Linked DNA regions of Homo sapiens: region 2 is linked to region 1. Evidence: fine-mapped expression QTL. A gene starts in region 1. The other region holds a variant in brackets. All regions are shown on one strand. Distances are from middle to middle.

Evidence for each region.
Region 2: its variant is fine-mapped to the expression of ANKRD13D in whole blood (TOPMed, PIP above 0.99).

Annotation. Positions count from the first base shown.
Region 1 is chr11:67,286,888-67,291,259 of GRCh38, forward strand. It overlaps ANKRD13D (ankyrin repeat domain 13D), which reads left to right and starts at 2,416. Exons shown (of 15, transcript NM_207354.3): 1 at 2,416-2,663; 2 at 3,191-3,326; 3 at 3,435-3,559. The coding sequence starts at 2,574. RefSeq lists enhancers at 322-571, 1,322-1,531, 2,766-3,690, 3,691-4,372 and silencers at 1,752-1,821, 2,002-2,771.
Region 2 is chr11:67,412,724-67,417,095 of GRCh38, forward strand. It overlaps CARNS1 (carnosine synthase 1), which reads left to right and starts at 2,955. Exons shown (of 10, transcript NM_001166222.2): 1 at 2,955-3,040; 2 at 3,453-3,479. The coding sequence starts at 3,477. RefSeq lists enhancers at 1-320, 3,693-4,372. The variant T/A (reference allele first, on the strand shown) is at 2,177.

The DNA.
Region 1 (4,372 bases):
TGACTGGGACCGTCTCAGGCCCACAGAACACCCCTGCACAGCAGGCACCAAGCTGAGGCCCCTCCCCAGAAACAGTCACAAGGCACCTCTTCCCTCTAGGTCACACCGCAGCCTCTGGGCCCTTGGCCATCTCTGGCTTCAGCCTCCTCTCTGGCCTCACTGCACAGCCCTAGTAGGGGTCCCTGAGGCCTGAGGGGAACCCCAGCACTAGGCCTCTCCTCTACCCAGAGGCTTCTGGTCAACTTCCCTTTCCCCAGGTCCCTGCCCTAGCCCCGCGGGTGACTAAACAGATACATGTTGCTGCCCACTCCACACAGGGCTTTGCTGGGCATGGCTGGGGCCCATGGCCAAAGCACAGCATGCCAGGCAGAGAAGGGAGGCAGGCAGCTGGGCAGGGTACTCAGGGCTGAATACAAGAGTCAGGGGCAATGGCCTTTGAGCCAGGCCTCCAGCATTGGTGTGGGAAGGAGGGAGGACATTTCTGAGGCAGGGAAGAGCCAGGGACTCATGAGTGGCCCAGGCTGGCCGGAGGACTATAGGAAGGAGCCATGCCTGGAGGCACTGAATGCCAGGCTTAACCTATCCCGGAGCCAGGTGTGTGCTCAGGGCCTGCAGAATGAAGATACAAACGACATGGAGTCCAGACCTGCCATGCTCAGGGAGCCCTTGAAGGTGCGGAACAGGGCTGAGAGTGGTGAGAGCTGGCTCTAAAGTGATTGCCTGGTTACTGAGTACAGGATGTGGGGAGGGAGGTGAAGGACAGGAGGCAGGGAGACAAACCTCCGCAGTGGGAGAGGAAGAGATGAAAAGAGGCCAGACGGGAAGAACGTGGTCCAGCAGAAACAGGCTGGACTTGGGGCTGAGTGAGGCGGGAGTCTGGGGAAGAGGGTAGGTGTGGTTGGGTTGGCTTCGGACATACTGATGGGATAGCATGGGATCCCTGGGCACAGAGATGTCCTGGAGTAAGCTGAAATGTGGACCTGGGGGTGGCATCAGGGTGACAATGGGAACGGACAGTCTCTCTCCCAGGGATGTGGGGGTCAGGGAGAGAGAGGAGGCCGTGGAAGAGGGTTGAGAAGGCACTGTCATGGAATTAAGTGCCAGTGGGGAGCTGTGTTCAAGATGGCAGAAATCAGGAGAGGCTGGAACCAAGAAAGTCCTGTCGGGGTTGAGTTTGGAGAGGGCTCAGGGAAGGGACCGCCTCTGAGAAAAGGGGTGGCCAGGGAGGGCTGCAGTAGTGGTGAGCAGGTGAGCTCTGGGCATTCAGAAGCCTTCGGGCTGCTACCAACCCCAGGACCTCACAGATTGACACCATAGCGTGGGGTGGCAAAGTGACCCCAGATGGCACAGGCGCCATGTGACTACAGGGAGAAGGCAGGGTAAAAATGGCAATCAGGCCTTCCAGCCCAGAGTCTCAGAACTGAGGACGCCCTACAGCAGGAAGTGATGCTCAAGCTAGCTGGCCCTCCTCAATCATGTTCCACGTAGGGAAAGGGAGAATAGAGGGTCAGCCTTGGCCACCTAGCAAAACCAGGGCCCCAGACCCCAGGCTGGGCCTCCAGTAATCAAGGGCCGGAACTGAGCTGACGGAGGCCTGCACCCTAGTTCCGGTGTGGGTGGAGGGGCCGGCCCTGATTTCGAAACTCGCCTTCCTCTCCTGACGCTGGCAGCCAACCGCAGCCTCTGCAAAAGGGACTCGTGCGGCGGGCGAAGGCAGCCGTTCGCCGCGGGCGGTCCTCCGCCGGGACGGCTCTGCCGCTGCCTGGGCCTGCGCCCCTCTCTCCCCGAACTCCTATCCCTGACTTCAGGGCCCCGGGGGCCGCCTCCCCGCATCGCTGGGCCTGCAGACACCGGCCAGGTCCCAGGGGAAGGTGCTTCCCGCTCAGCCGGCAAGCACTTAGTGGCGTCTGCTCGTTGCTCGTCTCCAGGCCGGGTGAGGGGAGCCGGGGCGCCCCACTTCACCCGCACACCCCAGCAGAGTCGGTGACCGCGGGACCTGGGGTAGGAAGACCGGGGCGAGCAAGGGGATCCGCGGGGGAAACGCAGGCATCACGGCTGCAGCAGGACCGCGGCCCGCCGCGCACGCGCGTGCACTACCGAGGGGCCCAGTGCCCGCCCCCTCCGGCCCCGCCTTCCTCTTCCGGACCCGGCTCCGGGGGTCTGCGCAGGGCTCGGGGCGCCTCCTGCGGGCCGCGGGCGGAGCTGTAACCGGGCACCGCCCTCCAGGCCGCCCCAGCGGACCCGGGCCCGACCGAGGTCGGGGCGCAGACCCAAGGCCGGGCATCTCCTCGGGCGCTCGCGGTTGCTCTGCCGCGCGCTGGCCTGGCCGCGGTTGCCATGGTTGCGGGGGGACGGGGGCGCGCGCGAAGCCCCGCCCCGGCCCGGCGCAGCCCCGCCCGCTCCGCCGCCCGCCCCGCCCTCCCTGCCGCCCGCGCTGCCGCCGCCGCCGCCGCCGCCGCTACTGCTGCGGGGGCCGCGGGGGGCGCAGCTGGGGCGCGGCTCGGAGGGGAGGCTAGGGGGCCGTGCCAGGCCCGAAGCCGAGGCGGGGCCGGGATGCGGCGCTGAGGCCCAGCATGGCCGGCCCGGGCCCCACCTTCCCGCTGCACCGGCTCGTCTGGGCGAACCGGCATCGCGAACTGGAGGCCGCACTGCACAGCCACCAGGTGAGGCCCCGCTGGGGCACCCGGCCCTTCCCCCGGGTCCCCCACCCAAGGCTGTGGCCTCCGTCCTGGAGCCCCCCCCCCCCCCCCGCCCGCTCAGCTCCGCAGCCACATCCTGGGCCTTCCTCCCCTGCACGATCCCAAGCCCAGGTCACCGGCCCCTCGCGCCTGAGCCTCTGGCCTCCTCTCCCCTGCGCTGGGCCTTGCCCTGCTCGCCCGAACTCGCTTCCGCATCCTTGCTGACCCAAGCTGAGAACAAGAACTCTGGTCCTGGTCCCCAGGTTCCGCCAAACTCCTGACAACCTGCAGCTCTGCCTGACCAGGCCCCGCCGCCAGACCCCGGCTCTGCCCCTGCCTTCCCTCCTGCCCCCTCCTCTCCCCTGCCAGGACACGCAGGCCACCCTCTGCCATCTCCCTGGTCAGTCCGCCGTCCTTATTTCCCACAGCGATTCCCAACCCTGCTCGCCCTGGCAGCCTCCCTGCCTTGCCCTCTTCTCTCCTGCCCTTTGTGAGTGTCCCGTCTCCCCCAGCACGACATTGAACAGGAGGACCCCCGCGGGCGGACCCCACTGGAGCTGGCCGTGTCTCTGGGAAACCTGGAGTCTGTGAGAGTGCTCCTTCGACACAATGCCAACGTGGGCAAAGAGAACCGCCAGGGCTGGGCAGGTACTGCAGAGGACAAGGGGCTCCCCCTGAGGCTGGCAGGCGGGGGGCAGTGAGCAGCCAGGCCTGGGGTCATCTGGAGGGCTCCCCTCAGCAGCCTGGTGCCCGCAGTCCTGCAGGAGGCAGTCAGCACTGGAGACCCCGAGATGGTGCAGCTGGTGCTCCAGTATCGGGACTACCAGAGGGCCACGCAGAGGCTGGCGGGCATTCCGGAACTGCTCAACAAACTTCGCCAGGTACAGCAGGGCACAGTTATGGAGGTGGGGTACCATGGCAGGGCACCACCCTGGTTACTGTGCCAGGCCTGGCCTTGGAAAGGCACCCAGTTTGTGCAGTGTGCCTCCTGCCACCAGCAAGGAGGTCTGTCTATCTTGACCCCAGCCCAGGGTCACGTAGGAAAGAGAGACGGCCAGGCTCACGTGGGAGAGACTGGACCCTTTGGAAGAGAAGCCTTGCCAGCTTTGGGCCTCCTGAAGAATGCAGATTACCTGGAGCAGGGACTTCAGGTTGACTCGGTGGATTATGGCCTGAAACCCTGGAATACTTGCTACTACGCACCCTTCTGGAAGCACACGGAGGGGCCTGGCTGGCAGAGCATACTATCTCATACCCCCTACCCCAGGAGCAGGCTCGGAGGGAGCCACTGTGCCCCCTTTACAGAGTAGGACTCTGAGACCCAGTGGAAACAAAGGCTCCCCCAGGGCTCTGCACAGGCTCATGGCCAGGTTGAGGCTGGCCCTCCACCTCCAGGTGCTTACAGCCTCATTGTCTGAAGACCACTGTAGTGCCCCACTTGGCCCACCCTCTCCAGGGCAGAGTGGTTGGGCGTAGCTGAGCCATAGCAGTGCGTCAAGACTTGATGAAGGGCCAGGCGTTGTGGCTTACTCCTGTAATCCCAGCGCTTTCTGAGGCCAAAGTGGGCGGATCACTTGAGCCCAGGAGGTGGAGACCAGCCTGGGCAACATGGTGAAAGCCGTCTCTACAAAAAGTACAAAAATTAGCTGGGAGTGGTGGCACACACCTGTGGTCCCAGCTACTCGGGAGGCTGA
Region 2 (4,372 bases), 130 kb after region 1:
CTGTGCATGCATGCACGCATTCTGGCAGAAGATCCCGGCTCTGCCTCTCACCAGCTGTGTGACCTTGGGCAAGTCACACGACCTCTCTCAGTCTCATAATTGCTCCCTTGCATGTGAAGTGTTAAGCCTGGGCTGAGTGTGCACTGTATCCCCATTTGAAGATGAGAAAACTGAGTCCCCAGGGCTGCAGAGCTTGTTAAATGTTAAATGTCAAAGCTCATGCTCTTTGGATCACGCCCAGGCCCCACAGTGGGACCCCATGGGCGCTCAGGCCACCCAGGTGGCAAGCGATTGGGTCTCCTGGGGTGGTTGTGGGACCTGGGCCCCTCCCCTTAGTGATCTGAAGCTCACTCTCCCCAGCCTAGAATGGGGCTGGTTCCTCATTCCTGGAGCCTGGACCAGCTGTAGGGAGGGCTGCACGTGGGCCTGGAAGTTGTGTGGGGAATGTGGGCTGGACTGGGCATCCTGGAGAAGCCATTTCCCCTCTCTGCCGACCCTCTCCAGTGGTAGACAGGGATGGGTCTGCACAGACTGCCCTGTATATAGTTGCAGAAAGGGTCCAACAGCTGTCATCTCTGTCCCTGACATGTGTGGGCCCCTCAGTATTCTCCCCCAGGCCAGGAGGCTCTCAAGGACAGCCAGGGCTCAATATGTGTCCAGTTGCGAGACAGGCAGGGAGAAGGGCTGACTGGGGACTGTGAGAGGGAGGAGTTAGAGCCATAGGCTGCCCTGCCTAGGAGAGGGAAACCAGCCCCATTCTAGGCTGGGGAGAGTGAGCTTCAGATCACAAAGGGGAGGGGCCCAGGTCCCACAGCCAGAGCTAGGATTGAAACCCACTGGTGGGACACACTCCAGGAGAGGGGGTGAATCTCTGGTTGTGCTTCTGTGGGTGAATTGTGGCTGAGACCCAGGTCTCCTGGGGTATGCTTCTGTGGTTGGGTGGGTACACTTGGGTGTGAGTATGTATGTCTTGGGGAGATTATAGCTTCAACTCCGGGTGTGAAGTTGACCTGGGTGGGTGTTGATAAGCAGAGCAGATTTCTTTTCCTTTCTTTTCTCTTCTTTTTTCTTTCTTTTTTTTTTTTTTTAAAGAGATAGGGGGGCCAGGTGCAGTGGCTCACACCTGTAATCCTAGCACTTTGGGAGGCCAAGGTGACCAGATCATGAGGTCAGGAGATTGCGACCATCCTGGCCAACATCATGAAACCCCGTCTCCACTAAAAATACAAAAATTAGCTGGGTGGGCTGGGCGCGGTAGCTCATGCCTGTAATCCTAATACTTTGGGAGGCTGAGGCGGGCAGATCACCTGAGGTCGGGAGTTCGAGACTAGCCTGACCAACATGGAGAAACCCTGTCTCTACTAAAAATACAAAATTAGCTGTCATGGTGGCGCATGCCTATAATCCCAGCTACTCCAGCCTGGGCAACAAGAGCGAAACTCCATCTCAAAAACAAAACAAAACAAAACAAAACAAAAGTAGCTGGGCATGGTGGCTCGCACCTGTAGTCCCAGCTACTTGGGAGGCTGAGGCAGGAGAATCACTGGACCCGGGGAGGCGGAGGTTGCAGTGAGCCAAGATTGTGCCACTGCACTCCAGCCTGGTGACAGAGTAAGACTCTGTCTTAAAAAAAAAAAAAAAAAAAAAAGGGATAGGGTCAAAAAAAAAAAAAAAAAAAAGAGAGAGAGATAGGGTCTCGGCTGGGTACAGTGGCTTACACCTGTATTCTCAGGACATTGGGAGGCCGAAGCAGGAGGAGCACCTGAGGTCAGGAGTTCAAGACAAGCCTGGCCAACACGGCGAAACCCTGTCTCTACTAAACACACAAAAATTAGCCAGGCGTGGTGGCGTGTGCCTGTAATCCCAGCCACTCAGGAGGCTGAGGCAGGAGAATCACTTGAACCTGGGAGGTAGAGGTTGCAGTGAGCTGAGATCACACCACTGCACTCCAGCCTGGGCCGACACACTGAAACTCTGTCTCAAAAAAAAAAAAAAAAAAAAAAAAAGCGGAGCGAGCGAGAGAGATAGGCTCTCACTGTATTGCCCAGGCTGGAGTGCAGTGGCACAACCAGGACTCACTGCAGTCTCGACCCCCGGGGCTCATGTGATCTTCCCACCTCAGCCTCCCAAGTAGCTGGGATTACAGGCCCACACCACCTCAACCAGCTAGTTTAAA[T/A]TTTTTTTTTTTATAGAGACAGGGTCTTGCTATGTTGCCCAGGCTGGTCACAAACTCCTGGGTTCAAGCAATTCTCCTGCCTCAGGCTCCCAAAGTGCTGGGATTATAGGCAGCCACCGCACCAGGAGAGGCTGGATCTTATAGACATCCTGGCCCCTGTGTGCAAGTCCACTGGGTCCAGAAGTGAGGAGGGGGCTGCACAGATGTGTGGAGACCCTGGCCCAGGAGGGCCTCTCTGGGAGAACGTGCAATAGGGCAAAGCGCTGGCAGCTGGGACAGAAAGCTGCAGGGCTGGGACCTCCGGCCTCCATCCAAAGGTAGGGCTCAGGGCTGTGTGCTCCAGGCTGCTCTCCCGGGCACCCCACCCCTAAGGGCGGGCCCTAGTACCAGTCTCTGCCTGCTCCGGCTCTCCCCGCCCCTCCTTTCCATCTCTTCTCCATGGTGGGCCTCCCTCTTTCTTCATGGCAGCCCTACGTCTGTGACCCTCGACGACAGTCCCTGTCCATCTGTACCTGGCCCTCTGTCGGGACTTCCTCTGTGTCTCTGAAGACCCCCGTCTCTCCCTGCCTGCTCCGTGCCCTCCTCCTGCTGGGTCCGTGTCCCGCCACACGCCCCCAGGTCTGGGACGTTTTCGTGGCTGACGGGCGGGGGGGGGGGGGGGCGCGTCCCCGGCGGGTCCCTATCGGTCCCTGTCGGTCCGTCCGCCCCGCGCCGCCCCCGCTGGGCACTGGGCATGCCCCAGGCGTTTCTATATAAAGCGGCGCCGCTTGGGCCGGGCGCTGTGCCACTGCCACCGCCGCCGCCGCTGCATCCCGCCCGGTCCGAGTCCGCCCGCCACGCCCGCCGAGCCGCTGCCGCCGCCAGGTACCCCAGCTCCGGCCCCGCCCCGGGGAGAGCCAGGGAGGGGGGCGGCCGGGGCAGGAGTCGCGGGGACGAGGACCCCGGGCGCCCGCTCCCCGCGGCGGGACCCTCGACGCTACGCCCCCCACCCCCGGGACCCGGTGCCCCCAACTCCCCCCCGCGCTGGAGGGGCAGAGCCAAGCCCGGACCCCAGGGCAGGAAGGACCTGTGAGCCGCACTGGGGCAGGAGCCACTCGGTCTGGGCAGCAGAAATCCCTCCCTACCTTCGGGGTGGGGGTGGGGCTGCCTTGGCCTCTCTCTGCAGGGACAGGTGTCGGCCACCTCTCCACTCCCAAAGTCTAGGGGCTGGAAGGCCAGGCAGGGACTTGGCTGCCCTGACTCCTTCGTCTCTCTGTCCCTCTGTCTCTGCCATCAGTCTCTCAGCCACTCCACCCACGAGATGGTGAGTCTTCTGTGGTCCCTCCCCCACAAGGCCCAAGTCCCTGGGCAGAGAGTGGGCCCAGAGGACAGCAGGCAGCACCTAGGACCTAAGCCTGGGAGTTGCCCCCTGCAGACAGCTTAGACCCACGACCAGCTCCCCCACCCCCACCCTGCGGCTGCATCCTGGGAGGTGGGCACTCTTAGTGCCCTGTGACATTCATTCATTCCATGGCCCCTCAGGGAGCTCACCTTCTAGGAGACGGCACAGAGGCTCTGGCCCTGGCAAACTGGGATTCGAGCCCAGGCATGAGGCCCAGTCCTCTGCCGTCTGGGCCACAGCACACCATCTCCCAACAACCAAGAGATTCTCTTCGTCCCAGCCTCATCAGCCCCCAGGGGATGGGAGAGGGCAGGCACCAGGCAACAAGGTCCAAAGAGACCTCACGACTTGCTCAAGGTGGCCGAGCCTGTCCCCTGGAGGACAGACTCAGCTGCCAGGCCTGTCCAGGCCTGGGGACTGCAAAGAACAAGAATTCCATTCACACGAAGCCTCCCAGCAGCCCCATATTGGGGGGGCGCCAGCCTCAGAGAGGGGAGGGACGTTAGGTTTCATCCAAAGAAAGCATTTCCGTGACTCAAAATATCTGCAGGGGGGATACTGTCTAGCCTCCTAATGTTTAGCCCAGGGCTGGGCACACAGTAGGGCTTCAAGACCTACGTGGGGATGACAGTGGAATCACATTTAGGTGTCAGCACACTCCATGCCGGGTCATGAGACAGAAATAAGCCACCTCAGAGTGATGGCTGGGTTCGTTCATTCATCTACTCTTCAGTCAACAAACACTTACTGAGAAGTGGCTGTGTGCCAGGCACGCTTTAGGTGCTGGGGTTGCCTCCATGAACAAAACAAGCAGA